Regions from separate parts of the Homo sapiens genome. Here region 2 is linked to region 1. Evidence: fine-mapped expression QTL. Tissue or cell type: whole blood. Region 1 holds a variant in brackets; the other region holds the start of a gene. All regions are shown on one strand. Distances are between the middles of the regions.

The links.
Region 2: TCF20 starts here. The variant in region 1 is fine-mapped to the expression of TCF20 in whole blood (TOPMed, PIP 0.95).

The regions. Positions count from the first base shown.
Region 1 is chr22:42,295,128-42,300,492 of GRCh38, forward strand. It overlaps a transcript of TCF20 not described here. Among named protein-coding and RNA genes, the nearest start is that of TCF20, 27 kb to the left of the region's middle. RefSeq lists enhancers at 1-319, 2,634-3,279, 4,653-5,331, 5,191-5,365, 5,332-5,365. The variant T/C (reference allele first, on the strand shown) is at 3,087.
Region 2 is chr22:42,267,597-42,272,961 of GRCh38, forward strand. It overlaps TCF20 (transcription factor 20), which reads right to left and starts at 3,057. Exons shown (of 6, transcript NM_001378418.1): 1 at 2,743-3,057. It also overlaps the pseudogene OGFRP1. RefSeq lists an enhancer at 1,811-1,870 and silencers at 2,201-2,440, 2,581-2,640, 2,701-2,850, 2,991-3,150.

The sequences.
Region 1 (5,365 bases):
AGAGGGTGACACAGTCTGGTCCCTAAGCCTCCTAACCCCAGCCTGGGCCCTTCCTCCTTGATGGAGAGAGAAGACAGTAACATTTGAGGTGAAGCATACAGCTGCCCCTGCACCATAGCCACCCTAAACTCCTCTTTTGCTGCAGCCTCCCCACCCTCTGTGAGCCAGCCCTACCCTTTCAGCCCCATTCACTCCACACTCCCCACCGCTGGGCTGCCTTCTGGTCCTTCCCACCTGGCAAGCCTGCTGCTGCCTTGGGGCCTCTGCCCTGGCTGTCCCCCTCCCTGAGATGCTCCTCCCTTATGTTTTCTTTTCTTTTTTTTTTTTTTTTTTGAGACAGAGTTTTGCTCTTGTTGCCCGGGCTGGAGTGCAATGGCACAATCTCGGCTCACTGCAACCTCCGCCTCCCAGGTTCAAGCAATTCTCCTGCCTCAGCCTCCTGAGGAGCTGGGATTACAGGCAGGCACCACCACGCCCGGCTAATTTTGTATTTTTAGTAGAGACAGGGTTTCTCCATGTTGAGGCTAGTCTCGAACTCCTAACCTCAAGTGATCCACCCACCTCAGCCTCCCAAAGTGTTGGGATTACAGGCGTGAGCCACCGCGCCCGGCCTACTCCCTTATGTTTTCATACAACCAGCTCATGTCCTTCAGGCCAAAGCCTAAATGACACCTCCTCAGAGAAGCCTTCCTTGAACTCCCCACCTCAGCAGCAGAAATCCTGTGCAGCCTTCAGCCCCAACCCATATACCCATCCCCTCCTCCTCCAGGCAGGCTTTCCACACAGCGTGACCAGTTCCCACATGGTACAGGCTGCCCTCCACAAGACCCTGGGCATCACTGAGGGCATGGACTTTGAAGCCAGCAAGCTGGGGTTCCAATCTTGCCTTCCCCGTTTTCTAGCTATAGATGGATCTGTTTCCTCATCCGTAAAATGGGGGTAAGAACAGTCCTTAGCCCATCTGAGTTTTGTGAGGACTACCGAGTGAAGATGTGTCAGGACTTAGACCCCTGCCTGGCAGGTGAGTGCTTGGCAGTGCAGGATCACCATCATGACCACCATCATCATCTTCAGCAGCAGCCTGGCCTCCCCGAGCCAGGCCTCAGCGAACGGGATGCTGTGTCCTTGACCCCCAGCACAGGCCCTGGACACATGGACACTCAGCAAGTACTGGCTCAGTGTCTGACCCTGTGAGACAGGCCTGAGGATGTGAACAGCTCCCACTGCCCTGGCTGCACTCTTTGCTGCTGCTTTGCAAACCTGCAACGGCGCCAACTTGGGGGTGGTGCCGAGAGCCAGTGCAGCTGTGCCCGGCTCCCCAAGGGCCATGAGGGGCAGTTGGAGGCCCCAACACCCAGCCCTGCCTGGAGTCTCCTGGCCGGGATCACAGCCCTGCGGCGTTCGAGCTGCTGCCCACCAGCCGGCCCCCTGGCATTGGGCCCGGGATGCCAGCCAGCCAGAGAGGAAGCAGCTTGGCTGGCAGCCAGCTCACAGTGCCCGAGCTGTCAGCCGGGAGGCAGGCCAGGCAGGGCTGAGACCCCCACCCCCAAACAGGGCTCCAGCCAGGCAGTGCGACAGGGCCAAGTTTCTCCTCACCACCCGAGCCACAAGGGGGCCCTGCTGATGCCAGCCCCAAGCAGGGCTCAGGGATGTAATCACGCTGCAGGGGGACCCAGGAGGCCCCGTCGCCATTTATTCAGCTCAGCTTTTCGCGAATGAGAAAGCAGCACGAGGAGCAGGGGGAGATTTTCAAGTCAAATAACAGTAAAAACAGCAGCAACTACAGCTGACACTCAGCAAGCACTCACTCCATGCCAGGTGCTCCATGCACTCCGGCACTGACATCTCTCCAAAGGAAGGTGCTATAGTTAAACCCACTCTACAGATGTGGCAACTGAGTTCAGAGAGGTGCAGTAACCCACCCAGAACCACACAGCAAACTGGAGAAGTCAGTTTAAACTTGGGCCCCAGAACCTGTGTCCCAACCCCTATGCACTACTGGTTCAGGCAGGCCTCAGTGCCCATACCCACAATGGATGGCCCAGCTGGGCGACCTTGGGCAAGGAGGCTGCCCATCTGGAAAATGGGCATGATCAGAGAGGGCTACGCTGTAGAACTGACCAGGGGGCTGAAAAAAGAAAAACAGGTGAGGAGCTACTTCCTGTCCCCTGCCAGGCCTGAGCAGAGGTCAGACTCCCTAGCTGGCTTAAGGGTTGGTCATATTCATGGAGCGGCAAGAATGAGGAGTGGGTCCTCATTTGCATTAGACGGTAAATCTAAGGACACTGGTTGTGCCTTCTTTTTACCAGCAACAAGAACTCATCAGAGCCCCTCCCAACCTTCTCCCATCCCCCACTGCCTCCTGAGCACCCTCCAAGGGCACAGCTGGGTGAGCCCCATGGCTGGGCTGGAGGGGCCAGACACTGGGGAGGGGCAGTTCACAGGGTCAGCCATGAAAGCCCATGATCCCTGAGCCTCGAGCTCAGCCCCCAGGAGCTTCCCCTTCATAACCTCTTCTCCCAACCCAGACCAGGCAGACTTAGGAAATACTGGCCAGAGAGAATCTTGAGCCACACAATTCAGACAAATGTGTGTGGACTCCCCTCTTGCCCCACAAACCACAACAGAAGGCCTCGGGTCGCATCCCCCCACCAGCTGGGGCCCCTGTCAGGCAGGGCCCAGCATTCCTGGCTGATGGTGAGGAGATGAGACCCAGGGTGGAAGGAACACATGGAGGGTTCACAGCAGGGCTCCTCTCTGGCACCCATGCAGAGCAGGCAAGGATGAACATGTGCTGGTTTCAGGGCTGGGCCTGGGGGTGCAAAGGTGACCGCTCAGCCCAGCTGCTCACATCTGTACAAAGTGGTGGGGCTTTTCAGCATCTGTCTTCTCAATAGACTCAAAGCAAACCCATGGGAGAGAAGGCATCACCACTGTCTCCATTTCTCACATGTCCTGAGAGGGCCAGTGACTTGCCCAAAGTCACACAGCTGATCAGGGCACAAATCCCAGGGCCCTGGTGCTCCTATCACCAGATTCCCTAGCCCGGAGGAGGGCTGAGCCCTCAGCCAGAGCCAAGGCTCAGC[T/C]TCCAGCGACTCATCCAAGAACTGAGATGGAGCAGGGGATGAGTGAGGACAGGCAGGGTTTGACATCAGCGGAGGTGCTCCTGGAGAGAGGGTAGGTGAAGGTGGGCACATGGGCGATTGACCCAAAGGGCCGACTGTTGTTGGGGCACCCATTGGGTGTGGAAGGCGACAGCAGCTGCTGCTGAGAAGTTATTCTAGGGAGACAGGAGTAGTGTCACTATGGTTTCAAGGAGGAAAACAAGGCACATGCCGGGGTGGTGACTCCAGGGCCGAAGCCTCCTTGGCTATCACTGAAGACCATCCTGCCCAGAACCCCGAAGCAGAAGGCCTGGGTCCCAGCCCTGCTGTCAAGTCTCGGCACTTCCCTGAGCCTGGGCTCTTCATCTTTGCACGGATGGTGCTGGGGGAGGGGGCAGTGGGACAGGCAACACTCTCACATCCCCTGTGGATAGCTGGGCACATAGTAGGCCTACCAGCTGGCATGGTCGCAAGTTTGCCCTAATTTCATCTATCTCTGCACTTGCCTTTTGTGGGGACACCCACCTAGATGACAAATTTGACCAAAGAAACCACAGCAGGGATGGGCCAGAGCCTGGAGGCCAGAGCAGCAGGCAGTCCCCTCCCCACCAGGCCTTCCCCAGGACAGTCCAGAACCAGCGTGCCCAATGCCCCGGCCTCCAGGAGCCATCCCTGCCTCAAGTCGGGGGAGGACGAGAGGGCCCAGGGCAGGGAGGGGCCGGGCACCACGGCCAGCACAGAGGAGGCACCCACTGGTGTGTCCTCAGCCTTAGAAGCTGTGGACCAACTGAAACAGAGAATAACCATGGCAGTGATGGGTGGGCTCCAAGGGTTCCCACACCCACCGCCTGCCCAGACCCCTGCTGTGGAGGGGAACGGAGACCTGGAGGGGTACCCCCAAAAATCTGGACTTGGCCCTGCAGGCTTCTCTGGCCTTTAGAAGGCACGGGAGGATGGGGGCAAGGGGGCGGTAGGCAGACAGCAAGAGCAACCAGTGAGCCCAGAGGACAATCACAGGGAGGACGGCGGCAAGGAGGTGAGGCCATGTCTGGCTGGGGGTGCAGGAACTGAGGGTCCTTCCCAGCCCCTCTCCCCACATCCAGCCCCCTGCTCTGGCACTCTCTCCATCTGCCTCTCACACAGTCCTTACCTTGCTCTCCCTCCCCATGGACTCTCTCTCCCATCTCCCCTCCCCACTCCTAGCCAACCTCCAATGCCCTGGGGCCTCAATTTCCCCCAGGACAAAGGGGCCTCAAGGCCTCATGAACAGAACATGCTGGCAGTGGTGGGTCACCCAGGAACCCCGAGGAACTGGAATGGGGGTGGAGGGGAATCACATGTCCCACTGGTCACCAGTCCCTCTTGCCTTTCTGTCCCAGCTAGCAGCTCTCCAACCTCTGTACCTCTCCCCGAACGCAGGCCCCCCTGCCCGCACCCCAACACTTCAAGACCTCCTAGGAGTGACCTGGCTGGGGTCTCTCTAGGTCAGGTAATTAATAGCAGGAGGGAAGTGCAATTAGCAGGTACCTGGAGTGGGGTCGGTAAGAGAGAATAGCAGAGGAGGAGGAAGTGGTGGGGATGGGGGAGGGGAAGAGAGAAGGGGGAGAAGGAAGCGGAGGGGAGGAGGGAGGAGGGAAAAGACAGAAAGGGGTAGAAGGGAAGCTTGGAGCGGGTGGAGGAGGAGGGGGAAAGGGAGCAGAGGAAGAAAGGAGAGGAGGGGAAGGAAGGGCGGGGAGGGGGAGGGGGAGGGGCGCGCTGAAATCACCCGCAACATCAAAGCCTTCCCCAGCCGCAAAGCAGTCACGTGCAGCCTGGTTCCTTTCGTTCCTTCGTTCCTTCGCTGGTAGAAGCCGCTGGGCCTGGGGCTGCTGAAGGAATTTTAAAACGAGGCAGATTGTCTGGAATATCAGGGGGTTAGGGGAATGCGGTTTTATCTCAAGGCAGGGTAAGGGGAGGCAGGTTTTGAAACCTGTTCCCCCAAGGAGAGCGGCAGGGCTTTGGGGCCTCTGCTAGGAGGCTGGGCAGGTGGCCAAGAGTGAAGACCACCCAGCTACTCCTGCCGGTGAGAGCTCGTGGCTGGGCCAGCCCAGATATCAACAGAAGCCAGAAATCTAGATTTGTATGTGAAAACTTCCCTGTTTTAATTTTGGCTCAAACTAAAAAAAAAAAGAAAAAAAGCGCCACATGGGCCAAATAGAGCATGTCCTGACTGGGGCCCAGAACCTCGGTCACCTCCCACTTCTGATGGTGGGCAGCAACGC
Region 2 (5,365 bases), 28 kb before region 1:
AGGCTGAGGTGGGAGAATTGCTTGAACCCGGGAGGCGGAGGTTACAGTGGGCCGAGATAGTGCCACTGCACTCCAGCCTGGCAACAGAGAGAGACTCTGTCTCAAAAAAACAAACAAAAAAGTGTTTACTTGTGTGATAGGCCTGATGGTAACATACAAGAAAATTACTACCAAACTGTCTCCGAAGTCAATAATTATAAGCACTCTGCCCCTATGCTGGGATCCTTTTGGAAACTGTTCAAAGAGACTGAATCAAAAAGTGATCTAGCCCAGGCGCAGTGGTTCACACCTGTAATCCCAGCACTTTGGGAAGTCAAGGCAGGCGGATCACCTGAGGTCAGGAGTTCAAGACCAGCCTGGCTAACATGGCGAAATGTTGTCTCTACTTAAAATACAAAAATTAGCCGGGTGTGGTAGTGTATGCCTCTAATCCCAGCTACTCGGGAGGCTGACGCAGGAGAATCACCTGAAACTGGGAGGTAGAGGCTGCAGTGAGCTGAGATCGTGCCACTGCACTCCAGCCTGGACAACAGAACAACACTGTGTCAAAATAAATAAGTAAATAAAAGGGGATTTAATTTTAAAAATTAAATAATATATAAAAATAAAAAGTGATCTGAGAAAGACATATTGTAACATATTGGGCTCATATCCGGCCCAGCAGCACAGTTCTAGAAATTTAAGACAAATTCTGAGGTTGGTATAGAAATACTTACCAGTCAAAAGCACAGCCTAAGGCCTTCACACACCATAAAATCAGTGAAACTAATTGCGGTTCTTCAGCATCTGCGGAGCACTGGCTACCAGTAAGGAGAAAGTTGGGGATGCAGATAATCAGTGCACCCTGAGGTGACAGTTAATTCCACTAGCATACCATTTCACAGGAGATGTTATGGCATTCTACTTCATCCCCCTACTCTGAGAATGCTGAAACTGGCTGGAAATTTCAACAGTTAGCCAAATGTCAAATGTCCTTTGAAGAACTTTAATAAAATCTGGATCCTCCAAAATCCCCTGCGTAGAAAGATCTTGGAACTCCTCTGAGCCAACATACACAGACCCAATCACATGTTATCCACACATTTTCCAAGTAGACAAATATTCTCTGAAACATTTTCTGATAACTTCTTTCACAAAGACAAAAAATATGTTAAGGTGCATTCCACCTAGGTCAGAATAATACACTTTCTGATCTGAAGCACAGAACAGCAAGTGGGATTTCAAAAAAGAGCGTACCCTGACCAACTTTTATGCTCTGTTGAAGGCAGAGGCTGGAAGCTTAAAGACAGGCTTTTAAAAGCCAGCTAAGGTACAGTCTGCATTTCTCAGAAAAGTTGCCTATGGCTAAAACAGAGCACAAAATGAGAGATAAAAAAGCAAAACCACAAACCCCTGTACCGTCTGACCCGGGAGTCCTCACTTAACAGATGAGAAAATTACCAGGGAAAGTAACTTGCCCTGGGCTGCAGTTTATTTGGCGTCAAAGCTGTAAGCAGATTCCTGGTCTCCCAGGTCGGAATTCAGTGTAGCTTCCCCATCCACCTAACTGCCACCCCACGGAAGATGCTGTATAAAACTCTTCACTCTTCACTGAGGCTGTTAACATAAGGGTCCAATTATCATTCAAAGATCAGCCTGTTAGATAATAGCTCGAAAATTCCATCCATTTTACAGCAGTTACCAGAGACATCTAATCTTCGAGGAAAAAAAAGCAAAAAGGAAAAGGGGGAAATCCTAATTTTGACCTGACCCCTAAGGTCAAACTAAAGGATTGAATACAGACCAGCAGACCGTATTGGTATCCGCAACCACAAAAACAGACAATAATCCCACCCACAAGCAGAGGAAGACGGCCGCTCCTCGGCACCGCCCCCCAACTCACTAAATTCCACTCCCATTCCGGCGTCCAGAGGACAGTGCACCTCCCGCCGTAGCCTGAGAGGGATCGGCCCGATTGGCCACGCTCCTTCAAACCACCACTTTCCCCCGAAAAAGGGACGAAAGCCTCAGGTCCCCAAACGAGCGCTCCCTCGCCCAGAGACCCCGGCTTGCACACCCCGCCCTGTTCCCCGCGGCGCGGGAGGAGAGGCCGCCCCACACAGGAAGTGTGTCCTGCGCCGGGACCTTGCGCCCAACCCGCCGGTACCTGCCCTCCGCCCCCAACAGGCGAGAAGCAGCCGCGTCCACATGGCTTCAGGTGTTCACATGGCAGTAAACGGGCCCCTGCTCTCCTGGGCGCCCCAGCGCGGCGCCCTCCCGCCCACATCCCGGCCCAGCCCCGCTGGCCTCGCCTCCAGCCCGTAGCCAAGAGGCGAGCGCGGCCGGTGCCCCCGGGGCTGCCAGGGGCCCCGAAGCAGGCGGCGCTGACTCCCGGACGCCGCCCGCTCACACCCGCCGCCTTTGCACCCAAGGCCTCGCGCGACCAGCAGGTAGACCTTCCCTCCGCACCCTCGGGCCAGCACCGGCACCCAAGCCCCGCCGGAACCCCGGGCCGGCCCAAGACACCTTAGCCCTCTGATGCCAGGCCTGGCCCGGGCCCCTGCCCGCACTCTTGGGTCGGGCCGGGCAGCAACACTCCCCTCAGCACCCCAAGCCCTGACTCGGAGTCCAGGAGGCTCCGCACTCCCAGGTTGGGTCCGGCCGGGACCTCTGCTCCCAGCCCCCGAGGCCGGACACCCCGGCCCGGCCCCAGTCCTTCAGGCCCAACCCTCTCCCTGCCCCTCAGGCCCGGGAGGCGGTTACCTGCAGGAGCCCCCCGCCCAGTCCCTCGGCCTCCGCCGGGGGCGGGCGGGGAGGGAGCGGTGGCGACGGCGGGCGGCGCTGCGCGGGGTGGGGGTGGGGGTGGCTCCGCCGCCTCCAGCTCGGGCGCCCGGGCCGGCGGCGGGGCGGGCCGGGGCCGCGGCCCCTCGAGGCTCGCTCCGGCCCGCGCGCTCGCTCCCCGGTCAGGCGCGCCTCAGGGCGGGCTCCCCTGGCGGAGGCCGCGGCCGCCTCGCAGGGGCCGAAAGCGGCTGGGCTCGGGGTTTTTTCTCTCCATTCTCCCAACACACAGGAAATAACAGAGCGTCAGGTGACGGCGCGCGGCCAATGGGGAGGCTCCGGGCCGCGGCGCGCGGGCGGGCGGGAGGGCGCGCGGCGGGGCGGGGCGCGCGGCGGGGGCGGGGCGCTGGGGGCGGGGCCGGGCGCGCGCGTGCCCACCCGCGTGCGGCGGCGTCGAGGCTGGCGCGCGCCGGGTAGGGATCGCGAAGACCCCCACCTCGCGGCAGGGTCGCACGGGGTTCTCCTCTGCGGCCGCTGGGCGCCGCGCGCCACCCGCCCAGTGCCATCTTGGCCTGCGCCTCAGGGCCGTCTTGGGGGTGGACGCGAGCCAACTTTCTGGGGGAGTTGGTGGCCCGGAATCTCTCTGGGATTTCTGGAGTTCCCTGGAGCCTCCAACTCCAGAATCGCGCCTCTTGCGGCCCGGGAGGTCCGCGGGCGAGGACCCGGTCTCCTCTCGGTGACCTGTTTAGTGGGGTCGGGCGTGGGGGCGGCTCCTGCCCGCCAAGAGCCCTCTGGGCCGGGGGCAGCCCAAGACCTAGCTGGTCCCGCCTGGGTCCCTGGCAGCCCCCGCCCATGGGTTCCAGGTGTCCGTGGAGGAACGACTTGGGTCCTCTCAGAGCCTCAGTTTCCACCGCGGAAAACGCGAGGAGGGAGGCCCACCTACCTCACCTGTAAAACGGACGCTCCAGCTGCCTTCTGCTGCGGCATTAAGAAGCTGCAATGCCAGGCTGACTGCGCCCAGGGTCCCGAATTAATTTGCCGATAAGGCGGAGGATTTGCGGTGCCAAGGCCTCAGCTTGTTCCCAGCCTTCCTTTGCAAACCTGATGTTTCTAAAGCAAAGGAAGGGCTTGACTTCTTTATAAAGAAAATCGCAATTGTAGAGCAACTAATATGTAGATGTTGGTGCCCCCACGGCCATCAAAAGTGACAAGGCCAGCAAGAGTAGGATGCGTTGAGAATTTGTGATCCTGCCCCTGACCTTTGACCTGGCCAAATTCTCCTCCCACTTTGGGCCTCAGTTTCCTGTGGGTGAGGAGAGTTTGGATTAGATGTCCCTAATGTTGGCTAAAATTGCCGATTCTAAATTAGGCTCCCATCTGTCCTAGATGTTAGGGGAGTATGTGGCTTCCTCTCCTGAAGCAACCCAACTTAAAAGTTGGGATTGGAAAAGTGCTTCCGGCAGCAGGTGGGGATTGTCAGGAACCAGGTGTGGTCTGGAACCCAGATTTCCATATATTTGAGGTACACAGCTTCCCGGGGCCTGCTTTTACTTTTTGACCTTTCACCCCACCTAGCCATTGCCTTTTCTCAGGCTACCCAAGGAGGGTCTCAGGGTCCCAGGCAGAGCCCCAGGTGGTCCTGGGCCCCTTGGCAGGAGCATGTACTTGGGGAAGGCAGTGATTTCTCCTGGCTTCTGTCCAATCTCACAAAGTGGGGGCTGGCTCCAAAGCAGGTCAGGACTATTCCTGGGGACTTGATTCCCCAACACCTCCTGCATGCCAGGCTCTTCCGGGGCAGAGCTGAACAAGCCACGGGGCCCTGCCCTCTGATTATTCCCATTGTTCTTCTGAGTTTCATTTTCAAATTCTCAGGCCTCAAGACTTTTAAAAGACCAGTACCTGGCTTCTCCTGGGATCAGGGCTGTAAAGGGAAAGCTGGAAGAGGCACTCAGCACAAATCAATGTTTTCTGGACAAAAATAGGAGAATGCAGGGCCTCCTGAAGACTGGTGTTGGGGGCACCCTTAATTTCTTGAGAGAATTCATGAAGAAAGATGAATCCTTTTTCCTTAGAGTCCCCTGCCCCATCATTCTTCCATTCTTTCCCTTCTTCATAACCTCACTTGCGTCTCAGATGCAGGGCCCGGGGGATGCTGACAATCTGTCGCAGAGCCTCATTCAAAAGGGAAAGAATAAAGAATGCAGACAGATAACTGGAGTCCAGGCGCCTGTCAGCTCCTGCCTCTTATAACCATGCAGCCCCCTCCCCGCCCTTTCAGACCCTGCCAGAACATTGCCCCAATGCCCTCCACCTGGAAACTTCCCCAGTCCTTGGACCAGGCCAGCTGGGCCTCTTTATCCCTGAAAGCCTGCCACTTTCTCTTTTGGTTCCATCTGGAAAAAGAACGTGTATGGGCATCATAGCCAACAGGAAGATGTGGGTTACTCTTGGACTGCGTGGCCTTGGACAAGTCACTTCCCCCTTTGGTTTCCTCAGCTATAAAATGGAGATAATATTATCTCACTGGGCCGGGTGTGGTGGCTCACACCTGTAATCCCAGCACTTTGGGAAGCCGAGGTGTGAGGATTGCTTGAGGCCAGGAGTTCAA